Linked DNA regions of Homo sapiens: region 1 is linked to region 2. The links come from fine-mapping of genetic effects on plasma protein levels. A gene starts in region 2. The other region holds a variant in brackets. All regions are shown on one strand. Distances are from middle to middle.

Evidence for each region. A credible set is the group of variants that fine-mapping cannot tell apart. PIP is the posterior inclusion probability: the model's chance that the variant is causal. The UK Biobank Pharma Proteomics Project read protein levels with antibody pairs (Olink). The fine-mapping took linkage between variants from a reference panel, not from the people measured, so its PIPs are less certain.
Region 1: its variant is the best candidate, but not a certain one, in a credible set for the plasma level of the AMBP protein (UK Biobank, PIP 0.53).

The regions. Positions count from the first base shown.
Region 1 is chr9:114,064,917-114,067,829 of GRCh38, reverse strand. The region is part of intron 6 of AMBP (alpha-1-microglobulin/bikunin precursor); the gene reads left to right. Among named protein-coding and RNA genes, the nearest start is that of AMBP, 12 kb to the left of the region's middle. The variant T/C (reference allele first, on the strand shown) is at 1,337.
Region 2 is chr9:114,076,663-114,079,575 of GRCh38, reverse strand. AMBP (alpha-1-microglobulin/bikunin precursor) reads left to right here and starts at 1,276. Exons shown (of 10, transcript NM_001633.4): 1 at 1,276-1,483; 2 at 2,836-2,913. The coding sequence starts at 1,367.

The sequences.
Region 1 (2,913 bases), 12 kb after region 2:
AGGTCAGTCAGTTTCCTTCATATTTGATGCCATTTTGCTTGGGTGCAACAGTCTTGGGTCGCGTGTTCCTTCCCTTAGAACTTTGTATATGTTACTCCATTGTTCTCAAGCGCCGATTATTGCTATGAAAAAGCCCGAGACCCGTGTGATATTTCTTCTCTTTGTAGGCAATTTATTTCTTCTGTTCAGATGCCTGGGAAAACTTTATCATTAAAATCAACATCTTAACAAAACCTGTCTTGATGTTGAAAATTCTATTTAAAAATTTATTGGGGGTTGGGTGCAGTGGCTCATTCCTGTAATCTCAGCACTTTGGGAAGGTGAGGCAGAAGGATCACGTGAGGCCAGGAGTTTGAGACCAGTCTGGGCCACATAGTGAGATTCCATCTCTACAAAAAGTGTGTTTGTTTGTTTGTTTGTTTTAAATTAGCCAGCTCAGTGGGTGGCACTTGTAGTCCCAGCAAATCGGGAGGCTGAGGAGGAAGTATTGCTTGAGCCCAGGAGTTCTAGGTTACAGTGAGCTATGATTGTGCCACTGCACTCTAGCCTGGGCAACAGTGAGACCTTGTCTCTATTTAAAATATACATCCTGAGCCAGGCATAGTGGCTCACACCTGTAATCCCAGCACTTTGGGAGGTGAGGCGGGCAGATCAAGAGGTCAGGAGATCGAGACCATCCTGGCCAACATGGTGAAACCCCATCTCTACTAAAAATGCAAAAATTAGCTGGGTGTGGTGGCTGAGGCCTGTAGTCCCAGCTACTTGGAAGGCTGAGGCAGTAGAATCACTTGAACCCGGGAGGCAGAGGTTGCAGTGAGCCGTGATCGCGCCATTGCACTCCAGCCTGGGTGACAGGGCAAGACTCTGTCTCAAAATAATAATAATAATAATAACAACACATCCTGGAATTCAATGTTCTCTTTTCATATACAGATTACATTTCTTCTGTGTTTGAGGGAAATCTCTCTTGATATCATTGAGTTTATCTTCCTTCCTTTTGTTGGGTTTTGCTACCTCGGGAACACTTGTTCTCTCATCCAGGAGCATCTTTGCCTTCCACATCTATTAGTTTCTTCCCAGTCGCTTTCATCTCTTTGTCGTTTCCATCTGCATTCACTGGGATTATCACTAGTCTCTCTCCTATGACATTCATTGCATTTTTAGCAGTCATTCCTTTGTGCAGACCGTCATTTCATTCTGTTCCTTGCTATTTCTATTTCTAATTTATTTGCTGGTTCTGAATTATGTTGTTTTGGTTCTCAATTTGTTTCTGTAGGCTTGGATTTTCTCTTTTCATCTTATTCTGTTGTTTTTGCTCATGCGTATAATCCCAGCA[T/C]TCTGCGGGGCTGAGGCAGTAAGACTGCTTGAGGCCAGGAGTTCAAGACCAGCCTGGGCAACATAGCAAGACCCCATCTCTACACACACACACACACACACACACACACACACACACGTGCACATAAATGCATGTTCTGATTAAGTAATTCTATAGCTTGAAGGCATTGAGGAATTTCCTTCTGTTTCTTGAGTTCTGTTTTCTTCTGGTATCACAGGTTGGGTTCCCCAGGACCAACACCTGTAGGGGAGAAGACATGAAGGCAGGATAGGGCAGAGGAAGCAGTCCAGCTGTGATGCAGTTACAATGCCTCAGCCAACACTACAGGGACCTCTGACATTTCAGAGACGTCCCAAGATGCTGCAAAGGGGCTGAGCCCTAATACCCCTGTGTTGATCAGTCTGGGAGGTGCGCATGACCTTGGGTAAGATGGCTCCTTTAGCTGCCACAGTCCCCAAAAGGGGCTGACCCCTGGGGGCTGTCTGACAGTAGCACTGCCAGCGACTGAGAAAGTACATCCATTGCTGAGGGAAATCCAGGTAGTTTATTAAGGTGTCCACCACAGCTGGGCTCTTTCTCTTATTCAGGTTATTTATTTTTTTATTCACTTCTGAGGTGGGTTTGGGTAGTTTCTGTACCATTTATCTTCATCTTGCTTCTTCTTCGTCAGCTTTATCCAGACTTTCTGTTTGTTCTGGTACAATGGGAGGTGTCATTTACTCCTTGGTCCTCTTCCCATCAAATTTGAGCCCAATCCCACCTCCCCCTAGCCCCATCCTACTTTAGTGTAAGATCTGGGTGTTTTATGTTCATCAACTTTTGTAAAGTCCAAGGGAATGGTGAGGGTGGGGGTGGGGGTGGGGTAATGAACTGCCCCGAGGTGCACATGCGGGTCTGAATACTGTCTGTGTGTTTCCGGGGGCTGCCGTAACAGAGAACCACAAGCTGGGGATTTAAACAACACAGATTTGCTGTCTCACAGTTCTGGAAGCCAGAAGTCCAAGATCAAGTTGTTGGTAGGGTTGGTTCCTTCTGTGGGCTTCGAGAAAGAATCTGTGCCGTGTCTCTCCCATGGCCTCTGGTGGTTTGCTGGCAGTCTCTGGTGTTCCTTGGCTTGTTAAAAACATCATCCCAATTCCCACCTTTATCTTCACAGGGAGTTCTCTATGTGTGCGAATCACCCGTTTATAAGGACACCACTCATATTGGATTAGGGTCCACCCTAATAACCTCATCTTAATTAATTGCATCTGAACAATCTGATTTCCAAATAAGGTCACATTCTGAGGTTCTGGGGGGTTAGGACCCCAGTATATGAATTTTGGGGGTCACAGTTCAATCCATAACATCCTTCCTCTGCTTCTGTTTGGAAGGACTGCTGAATGTTCTGGATGGGGCTCATTATCCCTAGGTGGGCTGGTGTGATATAATCCATCCTACGACAACATGTCCTGGAGCACTCAATTGTATAGCCCTGGAACTTTTACTACCATTCCTCCCATTCTGTGAACTCCATTTTTGCTTTTTACTCCTTTCTCTCCAAAAGGCATGTTCACTACTCCTCTGTCAGGAAAGGA
Region 2 (2,913 bases):
GGTCAGACACCTGAGACCAAATTTTCAGCAGAGCCATGTTCCCTTTGAAGATTCTGGGGAAAAGTCCTTCCTTGCCTTTTGCTAGCTTTTGGTGGCTGCCATCAATCCTTGGTGATTTTTGACGTGTCACTGCATCCCTCCCATCTCTGCCTTCGGCGTCACGCCACATCTTCCCCGTGCTTCTCTCTGTGTCCCTGTGTCTGAGTCTCCCTCACCATTCTCTTATAAAGATACCGGTCATTGGATTTAAAACCCCTGTCATCCAGTTCAACCTCATCTAACTAATCACATCTGCAAATCAGGTTCATTCTGCGGTTCGGGGTGCACATGGATTCTGGAGGGGGCACTGTTCAACCCACCACAAACACTCAGCTCTTACTCTATGCTGGGTACTGTCCTAGCGCATTGCAGGTGCTCACTCAACAATGCTAGGAGCTAGGAACTATTATTATCCCCATTTACAGATGAGGAAACCAAGGCACTGAAAGGTAAAGTGACTTGCCCAAGGTCACACAGCAGTGAGTGCCACTGTAGGCTGCCTGGCTCCCACGTCCATGGTCTCTACCACGCCTTTCCCAGCTACTCCACTCCCGGCTGAGGGATTCTGGGCAAGTCACTTCACTTCTTGGAGACTCAACTCCTCTGCCTGTAAAGGGGACAAATAGCACCTACTTCGTAAGCTTGTTGTGGGGATTTACTGGACACCTGTGGCACGTGTAAAGTGCCTGGTACACAGCCAGCACATAGCAGGTGCTCAGTGAACGGAAGCTCGTAACAGTCATCATTGTTAATGTCTCTATTATTTGCAAAGGCTAGGGCAAGCCTGGGGGCTGGAGAAGGAACTCTGGAGACAGGATACCTGGGTTCTGGTCTTGGCTCTGCCCATAGACTTCCCTGAGGTCTCTGGCAAGTCACTTCCTCTCCTTGGGCCTCAGTTTTTTCCTGTGAGAAATGGGCCCAATCAGGCTTGACCTGCTGGCTCACAGAGCTGTGAGGTCCAGATGGCATGACTCAGCAGAAAGGCCAGGTCGCTCCCCATCCTCGCATGCCCTCTGTGGGGGACTTTTGGGGGGCGGAGCCCAATCCTGGTGCTCCAGGGCCCTATTGTGCTTGGCCAATGCCTCTTCTGAAGCAGCCATCCCGGCCTCTTGGTACTGCTGACCCCAGCCAGGCTACAGGGATCGATTGGAGCTGTCCTTGGGGCTGTAATTGGCCCCAGCTGAGCAGGGCAAACACTGAGGTCAACTACAAGCCACAGGCCCCTTCCCCAGCCTCAGTTCACAGCTGCCCTGTTGCAGGGAGGCGGTGGCCCTTCTGTTGCTAGACCGAGCCTGTGGGATATACCAAGGCAGAGGAGCCCATAGCCATGAGGAGCCTCGGGGCCCTGCTCTTGCTGCTGAGCGCCTGCCTGGCGGTGAGCGCTGGCCCTGTGCCAACGCCGCCCGACAACATCCAAGTGCAGGAAAACTTCAATATCTCTCGGGTAAGGCTGCCGCTCTCTGTGGTAGGGTGGATGTGGTGATGGGGAGTCCAGGCAGATGGGCCCTGCTGGGCAAGTGCGGCCTGTCTCGGGGTCTCAGGCTTCCACTCAGATCATCTGGGATTATGGGATCCTTTGAAGGTACAGCTCTATCCCCTGCCATTCCGTGGGTCTCTTGGCTGACATTCTATGAGTCAAACATCCTCACCTTCTGCACTGTCCTCGTGGGCTCCAAGGGGAACCCTTGTGTTAATGGGAACCTGCTCCAGAGAAGGCTTTGTCCTGCCTGCCACTGCCCTGCAGCCCCCGTGCAGACACCTAGCTTTGCCCAGACCTCCCAGCCCTTCCTTCTCTAATGACTCCCCTCTCTCTGTGGCATCTTTCCCTTAGCTCTTCCTGTGTCCCCTGCCCACATCCTGGCCTGACTGTGGACAGACACCTGGGGTGGCACAGCGTGGGCATGTGGCCAGCAGCTTTTGGGTTGGGCATGTGGGGCTTATGGGAAGAGGTGAAGCAGGACAGAGATTAGGGTTGGGAGACATTCAGAGGCTTGGGCACAAGGAGAGACCTGGACTGGGGCAGGACACTCTCCTGTGAGTGTGGAGTGCCAGAGCTGCCTTCCAGCCCCCACTCTGCCCTAAATCCCGGGGTGGCTTTGAGAATACCCTTGCCCACCTGGGGCTGTCTCCATGTCTGTATGAAGGGTCTCAGAACCTTCTAGCTGTGGTGTCATGTGGGTTTTGTTTACTTTTAGGGACAAGGAAAGGTCGTGGCAGAGGGGCAATGAGGAGCAGGTCCCTGTGGCAGTCTGGGACGCAAAGGGTGTGGGGCACATTGGCCTGTTCCGTAGGAGCCTGAGGGCTCCTTCAGCTGTCCCGTGCACTTTCAGGAGGAAGAGGAAGCAGGCCTATCCTGAATGACCCCATCATGTTCATTATACTTTTGAAATAATTCCTAACATGGGGCTGTGGGCTGCCTTGCAAGGTGGGGAGCACCCCATCATTGGAGGAGTAAAAGACAGGACTCCAGCTCTTGGGGAGCAGTGGTTGATGGAGCTATGGACAGATCCCACATCTTGAGAGAGTTAGCCCTTCTGCAGGGCAGGTTGGGACCCCAGCCGCACACCTGCTTCCTGGGTTCGCTGTGATGCCTGAAACGCCACTCTTAGGGATCTGGCCTCCCTTGAAGGTGTGTGGCCTCTGATTAGTTGTAAGACATTATCCCTTAAAAGGATAAGTCATTTTGAGGAGAAGGAGGAGGAAGAGGAGGAGGTGGAGGGTGGGGAGCAGATGTCAGCCAGGTCTGCTTTGAGGTCTGAGACTGATGCAGACCCCCAGAGCTCACCTGCCTCCTAGATCTATGGGAAGTGGTACAACCTGGCCATCGGTTCCACCTGCCCCTGGCTGAAGAAGATCATGGACAGGATGACAGTG